Linked DNA regions of Homo sapiens. Changing the gene in region 2 together with the main gene of any one other region gives a genetic interaction. Each region holds a gene or a part of one and is shown on either strand. Other genes may lie near its edges.

The links.
Region 1: changes in ATR (region 2) and POLA2 are lethal when combined (synthetic lethality), as found in Homo sapiens cells (one large-scale study listed by BioGRID).
Region 3: changes in ATR (region 2) and EDA together harm fitness less than expected from each alone (positive genetic interaction), as found in Homo sapiens cells (one large-scale study listed by BioGRID).

Annotation. Positions count from the first base shown.
Region 1 is NC_000011.10:65,264,867-65,268,521, forward strand, and holds part of POLA2 (DNA polymerase alpha subunit B), read left to right. Parts: intron 1-1,715; coding exon 1,716-1,840; intron 1,841-2,610; coding exon 2,611-2,702; intron 2,703-3,655. UniProt on the Homo sapiens protein: Accessory subunit of the DNA polymerase alpha complex (also known as the alpha DNA polymerase-primase complex) which plays an essential role in the initiation of DNA synthesis.
Region 2 is NC_000003.12:142,558,079-142,561,733, reverse strand, and holds part of ATR (serine/threonine-protein kinase ATR), read left to right. Parts: intron 1-312; coding exon 313-491; intron 492-1,279; coding exon 1,280-1,471; intron 1,472-2,292; coding exon 2,293-2,483; intron 2,484-2,957; coding exon 2,958-3,110; intron 3,111-3,655. UniProt on the Homo sapiens protein: Serine/threonine protein kinase which activates checkpoint signaling upon genotoxic stresses such as ionizing radiation (IR), ultraviolet light (UV), or DNA replication stalling, thereby acting as a DNA damage sensor.
Region 3 is NC_000023.11:69,955,065-69,958,719, forward strand, and holds part of EDA (ectodysplasin-A), read left to right. Parts: intron 1-1,962; coding exon 1,963-2,068; intron 2,069-3,655. UniProt on the Homo sapiens protein: Cytokine which is involved in epithelial-mesenchymal signaling during morphogenesis of ectodermal organs. Functions as a ligand activating the DEATH-domain containing receptors EDAR and EDA2R. May also play a role in cell adhesion.

The DNA.
Region 1 (3,655 bases), on a different chromosome or scaffold from region 2:
ATCTTGCCTTTAAAATACTCTGTTGACCCTACTTCCCACTCCAGTTCTCTCCTTCCCAATTACAGCAGACCTCAAAAGGGTCGGCCGGGTGCGGTGGCTCACGCCTGTAATCCGAGCACTTTGGGAGGCGGAGGAGGGCGGATCACAAGGTCAAGAGATGGAGACCATCCTGGCCAACGTGGTGAAACCCGGTCTCTACTTAAAATACAAAAATTAGCTGGGCATGGTGGCGCATGCCTGTAGTCCCAGCTACTTGGGAGGCTGAGACAGGAGAATCGCTTGAATCGGGGAGGTGGAGGTTGCAATGAGCCGAGATCGTGCCACTGCATTCCAGCCTGGCAACAGAGTGCAACTCTGTCTCCAAAAAAAAAAGGGGGGGGGCCTTGCCATCTTTAAATATTTCCTCCTTAAATCCATTTCAGTAAGTTCTTTTGTTGCCACCACTTCACCAAAGCTGCTCTACTCAAGGTCACCAGTGACCTTCACCATGCTAAAACCAGTGATGAATTTTCAGTCCTCATCTTGAATTGAATTAGCACCGGCACTTGACACTGTTTGTCATTTTTTCTTTTTTTAAACACATTTTTCTTTTAGCTTCTTAGACACTACTAGTTTTTCTTTCTTTTTTTTCTGAGACAGGGTCTTGCTCTGTTGCCCAGGCTGGAGTATAATGGGCAAATCACAGCTCACTGCAGCCTCAACCTCCTTGGCTCAAGCAATCCTTCCACCTCAGCCCCCAAGTAGCTGTAACTACAGGCACATGCCACCAAGCCCACCTAATTGTTGTATTTTTTATAGAAACGGTTTCACCCTGTTGCCCAAGCTGGTCTCAAACTTCTGGGTTCAAACAGTCTGCCCACCTCAACCTCACAAAATACTGGATTACAGGCGTGAGCCACTGCATCCGGCTTACTCCTAGTTTTTCTTCAGCTTTGCTTGTGTCACCGCTTCTCAGGCTTTGCCGATTCATCCTCAGAGGCCCTAAGGCGCCCCAAGACTCAAGCCTGGGATCTTTTCTCCCTTCTAGATACGCTCACTCCCTTGGCGATCTCACCTGGGGTCTCATAGCTTTATATCCCATGTATTTACTGATGGTTCCCAAATTTATACCTCCGCCCACAACCCTTGCCTGAACTACAGGCTGGTTTGTTCAGCCTGCTGTCTCCAGTTGGATGTCTAAATGGCACCTCAAACTCTGCATGTCTAAAACTAAGCTCCTGGTATCTCCTCTCTCTCCTCAGAGTAGTTCCTCTGGCTCTTTTCCCCATCTCAGTTAATAGGGACGCCACTCTTCCTGTTGCACAGGCTAAAAATATCAGCATCATCCTTGACTTTCTTTTTCTCATACCTTACATTCAGTTAGCAGATCCCACTGGCTTCACTTCCAGCATGTAAAGTCCTATCCAGAGTCCAGCCACTTCTCGCCATCTCCACTGCCACCACCTTGATCCAAGCCACCATCATCTCTCACCTGGGCTTTTCCATGATTCTTTAATTGGTCCCCCTGATTCTGCCCTTATCCTCTTTTGTCTCCCCTCAGTGGTGAGCTTTGTAAGGACAAGGATGCTTCTGTTTTCTCATTGCCCAAAACAGTGCCTGGCACTAATAGATTCTGAATAAACATTGATGGAGTAAACCAGGATTATTTTTGCTTTTCTAGGTGAAACTTCGAGAAATGAACTAAGTTTTTACTTGTCCAATTTTCCTTTCTACAGTGGTAGAGCTTTGTGTTCAGTATGGACAGAATGAGGAGGGAATGGTAGGCGAGCTTATAGCCTTCTGCACCAGCACACATAAAGTTGGCCTTACCTCAGAGATCCTGAACTCTTTTGAGCATGAGGTAAGAACAAAATGAAAGCAAACTAATAATGTGATTCTCCATTTCTGCTCTACAGGGGAGGCATTGTGATATATTGAGAGGAGTGTGGGCTTTCGAGTCAGGCCTGGATTCCAGTCCCAGTGTGAGCTTGGACAAACTATGTCCCTGAGCCTCAGTTTCCTTTTCTGACATTGGGTCTAATAATCTGTATTTTTTATGATTGTTATAAGAATTAAATGGGGCTGGGCGCCGTGGCTCATGCCCATAATCCCAGAACTTTGGGAGGCCGAGGCAGGCAGATCACAAGGTCAGGAGTTCAAGACCAGCCTGGCCAACGTGGTGAAACCCTGTCTCTACTAAAAATACAAAAATTAGTTGGGCATGGTGGCAGGCGCCTGTAATCCCAGGTACTCGGAAAGCTGAGGAAGGAGAATCGCTTGAACCGAGGAGGTGGAGGTTGCAGTGAGCTGAGATTGCGCCACTGCACTCCAGCCTGGGACAGAGCGAGACTCCATCTCAAAAAAAAAAGAAATGAGAATGGACATAAAGCACTTAAAACTATGCCCAGCAGGTGATAAGTCTTCACCAAATAATTGGTATTATTAGGATTGTTATATGTTATAGACAGTCATGGGATGTCTTTGTTTTTAGTCTGTGTGTATCTTAATTCTTTGAGGAATGTTAGATCTTTGATTATATTTTGAATACCTTTTATTATCTCAAGGCTTTTGAAAACACCTCTGCTATTACTTGACTATGAAGTACTGTATTCACTATCTTTTCTTTTTCAGTTTCTGAGCAAAAGATTATCGAAAGCCAGGCATAGTACCTGCAAGGACAGTGGCCATGCAGGAGCTAGAGACATTGTTTCCATTCAAGAGCTGTATCCTTTTCTGCTGAAGGTCTTTGCACCAAGCTACATGTTGTATTTTATAATTTGTCTGTAGTCGCATGTGTAATTTAAAAACAAATAATAAGGCCGGGCACGGTGGCTCAGGCCTGTAATCCCAGCACTTTTGGAGGCCGAGGCAAGCAGATCACTTGAGCCCAGGAATTTGTGACCAACCTGGGCAACATGGTGAAACCCTGTCTCTATCAAAAGTACAAATTTTTTTTTTTTTTTGAGTTGGAGTTTCGCTCTTTTTGCCCAGGCTGAAGTGCAATGGTGCAATCTCAGCTCACTGCAACCTCTGCCTCCCAATCTCAAGTGATTCTCCTGCCTCAGCCTCCTGAGTAGCTGGGATTACAGGTGCACACCACCACACCTGGATAATTTTGTATTTTTTTTGGTAGAGACAGGGTTTCACCATGTTGGCCAGCTGGTCTCGAACTCCTGACCTCAGGTGATCCGCCTGCCTAGGCCTCCCAAAGTCCTGGGATTACAGGCGTGAGTCACCGTGCCCGGCCAAAGTACAAATTAAAAAATAATAATAATAAGCTGGGTGTGGTGATGTACGCCTGTAGATCCAGCTAGTTGGTAGGCTGAGGTGAGAAAATCTCTTGAACCTGGGATGTGGAAGTTGCAGTAATCTGAGATCAGGCCACTGCACTCCATCCTGGACGACGAGGAAACCCCATCTCAATAATAATAATAGTAAAAATTGCCTAATATTGAGATTTCTTCTAGCAATCAGCCCTTGCCTTATATGAAAGTTTATTATTATTATTATTATTTTTTTTTTTTGAGATGGAGTCTCGCTGTGTCGCCCATGCTGGAGTGCAGTGGTGTGATCTCAGCTCACTGCAAGCTCCGTCTCCTGGGTTCATGCCATTCTCCTGCCTCAGCCTCCCGAGTAGCTGGGACTACAGGCGCCCGGCTAATTTTTTGTATTTTTT
Region 2 (3,655 bases):
AAGTTACATGAAGAAAGTTGGTAATTCCCTTACAGAATTTTTTATAAGGGAATTAAAATTTATAGCATTTTGGTAAGAGGAAAAACAGGATGTAGAGAGAAGGATTTGTTTAAACCTTCTAAGACTATAGAACCATAGTCTATATATAGACTTAAATAATATAGATCAATTTAGATGTTTATTTTGCTTTATGAGACTCTAAAAGTAGTTTCACTAGAAAACACCTAACATCTAATACATTCTTGCTGCCTATGAATAATATAAATATATTTTCTAAGGAATATTTCTGGAAATTATTTTTTATTTTCTCAGTACTTGTTGGGCCCACTTTATGCAGCTTTGAAAATGGAAAGTATGGAAATCATTGAGGAGATTCAATGCCAAACTCAACAGGAAAACCTCAGCAGTAATAGTGATGGAATATCACCCAAAAGGCGTCGTCTCAGCTCGTCTCTAAACCCTTCTAAAAGAGCACCAAAACAGACTGAGGAGTATGATGACCTTCATTCAGTTTGTATTTAGCCATTAAATAAAACTTTGTTCACTTTTAAAAATCAGCTTTAGTTAAGTGCTTTGATTTAAATACACAAAGAACATCTTTCTAAATGTAGCCAAGGGAGTGCTTAAAATATTTTTATAATTATTGTAGACGGTTAGTAGTATAAAACATTTCATGGTTAAATATAGTTACTTTGCATGTTTTTATATGCTTATCTAATTTAACTTTTTAATATGTGAAAAATCTTTGAGACTGTGCATCTATTAGCAATTTTTAAAACATTAACCAACTATTTTTTATAAAGTGGCTAAGTTGCCATATTTCAGTTACTTCTGAACATTGTTTTAATTGTTTTAAATCTTAGTATAAATTTCAGGCTGGGCGCGGTGGCTCACGCCTGTAATCCCAGCACTTTGGGAGGCCGAGGCGGGCAGATCACGAGGTCAGAAGATCGAGATCATCCTGGCTAACACGGTGAAACCCTGTCTCTACTAAAAATACAAAAAATTAGCCAAGCGTGGTGGTTGGCGCCTGTAGTCCCAGCTACTCGGGAGGCTGAGGCAGGAGAATGGCGTGAACCCGGGAGGCGGAGCTTGCAGTGAGCCGAGATGGCGCCACTGCACTCCAGCCTGGGAGACAGAGTGAGACTCTGTCTCACAAAAAAAAAAAATTTTTTTGAATAGTTGATATTACATAGTATGTTTTATTCTAAATATGTTTCATGTTTTAACCAAATTTATATTGCATATGAATATCTCTCTACTATATTCATAATTATAGAATTAAACATGTGGACATGAACCAAAAGAGCATATTATGGAGTGCACTGAAACAGAAAGCTGAATCCCTTCAGATTTCCCTTGAATACAGTGGCCTAAAGAATCCTGTTATTGAGATGTTAGAAGGAATTGCTGTTGTCTTACAACTGACTGCTCTGTGTACTGTTCATTGTTCTCATCAAAACATGAACTGGTAAAACAAACTTCTTGTTTCTTGGGGTTGGGTTTCCTGTAATGAACTTGGATTTACTGTTTACTCATTATTCACTTGACTCATGTAACCTTAGAACACAAACTTTTCACTGAAGTAGTTAATAAATTTATTTTCTATTGAGTCAAATGCTAGGTACGGTGCTAAGCACTGTATATATCTTAGTTAATATTTACAATAGTCCTGTAAGGTAAAGGCTATTATGCCTATTTTAAAAATTAGAAACTGACACTCAGAGAAACTGAGGCTCTTTTTTGTCTGAAGCCAAAACTGACTTTCCTGGGGACACATGATTAGAAAGTACCAGAACACATTTGTGTACAACTCAAAACCCAGTGTTTGGCTGTTGAAGACAGGGTCTCGCTTTGTCTCCCAGGCTGGTGCACAGTGGCATGATCATGGCTCACTACAGCCTTGATCTCTATCCGGGGCTCAAGTGAGCCTCCCATGTAGCTGGAACTATAGGCATGTGCCGCCACACCCTAATTTAGAAAAAATTTTTTTTGTAGAGATGGGTTTCCCTATATTGGCCCGGCTGGTCTCAAACTCCTGGGCTCAAGTGATCCTCCCACCTCAGGCTCCCAAAGTCATTTGGTTCCCAAATCCTAAGGGTGATTTAAGCTGACATAAATAGATTCAACTTAAAATAGTAATAACATATTACTTGATTTGCATGTTTACTTTAAATTGTTATAGATAAATTTCGTACTCACAATTTCTTTTGGCTTTACTACAATTTTATGTTTGACTATAACAAAATTCATCTTAATTCCAATGTTTTTAACAAAATGTACTTACTGCAGCCGTACTTTCAAGGACTGTCAACATAAATCCAAGAAGAAACCTTCTGTAGTGATAACTTGGATGTCATTGGATTTTTACACAAAAGTGCTTAAGAGCTGTAGAAGTTTGTTAGAATCTGTTCAGAAACTGGACCTGGAGGCAACCATTGATAAGGTGGTGAAAATTTATGATGCTTTGATTTATATGCAAGGTGAGTACAAATTAGCAACAGATCAGAATAACCTTTAAAGATAATCAGTATAGAAATATGCTTTCTTTTTTGCCTGAAGCCTAAGTGCGTGTTTGGAATACTCAGAAGTTTTTTCCTGATTTCAGTTCTATTAAATTTGTCAATAATAGAAGTTCTGAGTTGCCAATTTATGTGCATAATATTTTGATTCTTTAGTCAATAGAAATTATTTATAACTTCAAAGTTTTTTAATTTGGGAGTTTGAGGAATGCCGTGATTCTTCTTTAAAACAGGCATAGATAACATGTTTTTATAAAGTCACATTTAATTTCTTTGGGTTCACAGACCTCAGACCATCGTTTATAGATCTCTGTGTTAAGAATTTCTGCTTATCCAATGATCATTATGATAGTATTTCAAATGTCTTTATTTTTATTTAAAAGAGATATGATTAAGGAAAAGTTATAATTAATGACTTATTTTGTGCTTCTGTAGTAAACAGTTCATTTGAAGATCATATCCTGGAAGATTTATGTGGTATGCTCTCACTTCCATGGATTTATTCCCATTCTGATGATGGCTGTTTAAAGTTGACCACATTTGCCGCTAATCTTCTAACATTAAGCTGTAGGATTTCAGATAGCTATTGTAAGTGCTCACAAGAATGTGTGTGTGGTTTGTTTTATTTATCTATCTATCTATCTATCTATCTATTTATTTATTTATTTATTTATTTATTTATTTATTTTTGAGACGGAGTCTTACTCTGTCGCCCATGCTGGAGTGCAGTGGCGCAATCTCGGCTTGCTGCAACCTCCGTCTTCAGGTTCAAGCAATTTTCCTGCCTCAGCCTCCTGAGTAGCTAGGATTACAGGTGCGCACCACCATACCCAGCTAATTCTTATATTTTTAGTAGAGGCGGGGTTTCACCATGTTAGCCAGGCTGGTCTCGAACTCCTGACCTCAAGTGATCCACCTGCCCCAGCCTTCTAAAGTGCTAGGATTACAGGCGTGAGCCACCATGCCTGGCCTTGTGTGGTTTGTTTTAACTCATCTCTATATAGGACTTCTAAGACTTATTTATATTTTTTTCAATAATTAAAAGAGCAGGTACATTTTTAATAGTTCAGAAGGGGGTTAGATACATAAAAAGTAACACATAAAAGCCTGCCCCACATATCCCATTTCCTTTC
Region 3 (3,655 bases), on a different chromosome or scaffold from region 2:
CTTCTATCCAGGATGACTTGTAGAGTTGCAAATGATTGAGATTTTATTGTAAACAGCAGTTTAGTTTTATACTATTATTAGTACTTAGCTTATTTATATTGTGAGTTAAGTAACTTTCTGTGGGCTTATCAGGAGAACTAGCCAAACTTTATTATGTTGATTGTATGAGAAAATGCATTTTTACATTCCAATCAAGTGACTCAAAAATACTACTCAGTTGAACCATGTGAAATTGTTGATTGATATTCAACCATTTTTGACAAAAATGGCAGTTTATTTTGAAATGCAGTCCTGTTGACAAGATGGAAATTACCTACACATTGATTTATTAATTTTATATTTAATACATTCATGTATCCTTCAAGATGCTAATCCTACACCTTAAGGATATTGGGTAAATCACAGAATTTTGAAGAAAATTTGTGTGGAATATTGGGGCTTTCTTGGGTCCAACCCATTTTTTTTCCACTTAATCAGAGATGGAGCAGACATGAGGACTCTGGAATTTTTTATTTTTTGAACTGATAATAGAATGAAAATGCAGATTCATTTGTTCTATTTTAGGCCCCAAATTAACCATTCTATTTTGAAGATTAAGTTTAATAATAATAGTAATAGCAAACATTTATTAAGTGCATGCTACATGCTAAGTACTGTTCTAACTCTGCAACTGTTTTATCTGCAAAGTACTATTATTATCCCTACTTACTGATGAGGAAACTAAAGTTTAAGTAACTTGTTCCAGGTTATACAGCTAGTAAGTGGCAGAGTTGGCATTAGAATCACTCAGTCCTACTACCGTGTTTACTGTTTACCTCAAGCACATGGTTTTACCACAGTAAAGCACTCATGCTAAAAGATTATGATTCAATTCAGCAAATATATATTTAAGCTATGATTATTAGTGAAGCCAGACCCATTCACATATGAAACATATTGTATTATTATCAGAGACCATTATAAGACAGTAGAGGACCAGGTACCAAAATTAGTCTTATAGACCACAAGTGCTATAGGAATCTCAGAAGAGGAGAAAATAATTGTGTACTTTGTCATGACTAACTCCCAGAAGAGCATTGACAAATAGTACCTCAGTATTGGATGCACAGCATTTTGGGAACAAACCAAAATTACATCATAAATAGCAATGTGGCAAAATCATGAATGTGTAATAATGAAGTCCAATGGGGAGCAGCAAATTCAAGGTTTTCTTTCTTTCTTTCTTTCTTTCTTTCTTTCTTTCTTTCTCTTTCTCTTTCTCTTTCTCTTTCTTTCTTCTTTTTTTTTTTTTTTTTTTACAGAGTTTTGCTCTTGTTGCCCAGGCTGGAGTGCAGTGGTGCGACCTCAGCTCACTGCAACCTCTGCCTCCCAGGTTCAGGCGATTCTCCTACCTCAGCCTCCCCAGTAGCTGGGATTATAGGCACCCCCCACCACCACACCCGGCTAATTTTGTATTTTTAGTAGAGATGGGGTTTCACCATGTTGGTCAGGCTGGTTTCGAACTCCTGACCTCAGGTGATCCGCCCACCTCGGCCTCCCAAAGTGCTGGGATTACAGGCGTGAGCCACTGCTCCCAGCCAAATTCAAGGTTTTCTGTTCAATTTTCTGTTCAACTCAAATTCTGAGTGAGCATCCTCAGTATGTGTGGGAAGTTAGAAATTTGTGGCTAGGCTCTCTGAATCCCAGAAATATATGAAGAAATGGGACCTGATGGATTATTTATTAGATATTCAGGGTGGAAGAAATGGGATTCAGAAATTAACCAAAATGTCATGCCTACATGATTGGAATAATAATGGTATCAAAAATAAAATGGTTTGTACAGTGGAGGGGAAGATGGGCTCAGGCTTTAGACACATCAAACTTAAGGTACAGGTAGACTGTCTATGGAAAGCTGGTTTTTTATGTTGGCTATGACTGAGTGGGGTCAACCTTTGACTAATGTACTTGTAATTTTTACAGATGGCCCTATTGAATTTCTTCTTCCCTGATGAAAAGCCATACTCTGAAGAAGAAAGTAGGCGTGTTCGCCGCAATAAAAGAAGCAAAAGCAATGAAGGAGCAGATGGTAAGTCTACTCAGTTGATCCTTTATCACTTCTGAATTATTTGTTAGTAAAAGTATCCTTTTAAGAACTACCTTCTTGGTAGGGCATGGTGGCTCACGCCTGTAATCCTAGCACTTTGGGAGGCCCACGCGGGCAGATCACTTGAGGTGAGGAATTCAAAACCAGCCTGGCCAACATGGTGAAACCCTGTCTCTACTAAAAATACAAAAAAAATTAGCCGGGCCTAGTCCCAGCTGCTTGGGAGACTAAGGCAGGAGAATCGCTTGAAACTGGGAGGTAGAGGTTGCAGTGAGCTGAGACTGTGCCACTGCACTCCAGCCTGGGTGACAGTGCGAGACTCCATCTCAAAAAAAAAAAAACAAAAAAAAAAAACCACTACCTTTTCAAGTGTGCTTCATCATCTTATATACTGTCCACCACAGACCCAAGGTCATAGACTATTTCTGCAGCCTAACCTACCAATCAGTCCTTTAACATAGAACTAACTATACAAGGATCCTCCCTCCTCCAACTCCAGATACCTTCAGTCCTTTCTCAGTATGTCTGAGAGCCATGATAGCATTTGTATCTCTCAAAATCACCCTCTATAAGGGCCTCATCTCTCCCGGAGATGTCCCACACCTATTAAGGTCAACAGGAGGATTTGGTTCTATTCTTGGAATTGACAGTGTTGTACCCTGCTAGCACTTACATGATGTGTTAATTCCAATGATAATTTTATCAATGTTGGTATCCACTACCATGCCCAAATCTGAACTAGACCTTCTAGAACTAGTTTATAAGTTTCTTGTGGGCAGAGATTTCATTTCTCTTTGTATAAGCCTAGAATCTAGCCTACTATCTGGAACATTGTTGGTGATTGTTATGTAAGTCGATGATGTTGACTGCCCCTTCAGCTAGGCAGTGATGTATCAATGGAAACCATCCCTGTTCTGGGTGTAATAGCTTTGAGTTAACTAGCAATGCATTCTGTGGGGCATAACAAAATGTTGAGCTAGCTCCTGGGCAGGGTCTTTGAATTGCTCTGATATTTCAGCATCACTCTGTCAATTGACATAATGCTACCCCTTTGGGCACAGGGGTTTGTAGAATACATAGCTCTGGGCTGCTGCAAAGGCATCTGGATTCAAAGACAGCATGTGTCTGGCTACATCTGCCAATAATATGTGTCTGGAGGGTTACAAAGCAATATGACTTTATACAGATGAAAATGAAAATTTTAAACTGACATTTGTTGATGTGAGTAAGGGCCACTGATGGAAGCAGTTTTAGAGGGCGGAAGCTATTAAAGAGATGGAGCCAGGACTTTGTCAGTAGGGGCAATAAGAAGTATAACTGGCTGAAATCTGAGAAAGAGCTCAGAACAAGGACCCCATAATAATACCAAAAAAAAAAAAAAAAAGAGCCAGAGCAGTAAGATAGGGTTTTCTAGTCAGTGGAGGTGGCAGCAGCATTGAGCCTTTGAATGGAGAACTGGACCAGTGGGGCCATTCTCTAGAGAAGTCATTTTGCATACAATTGATGACCAATTCAAGCCTAAGAAATGCAGTCCATGTAGTAAAAGTTACCCATTATTCACCTACTACT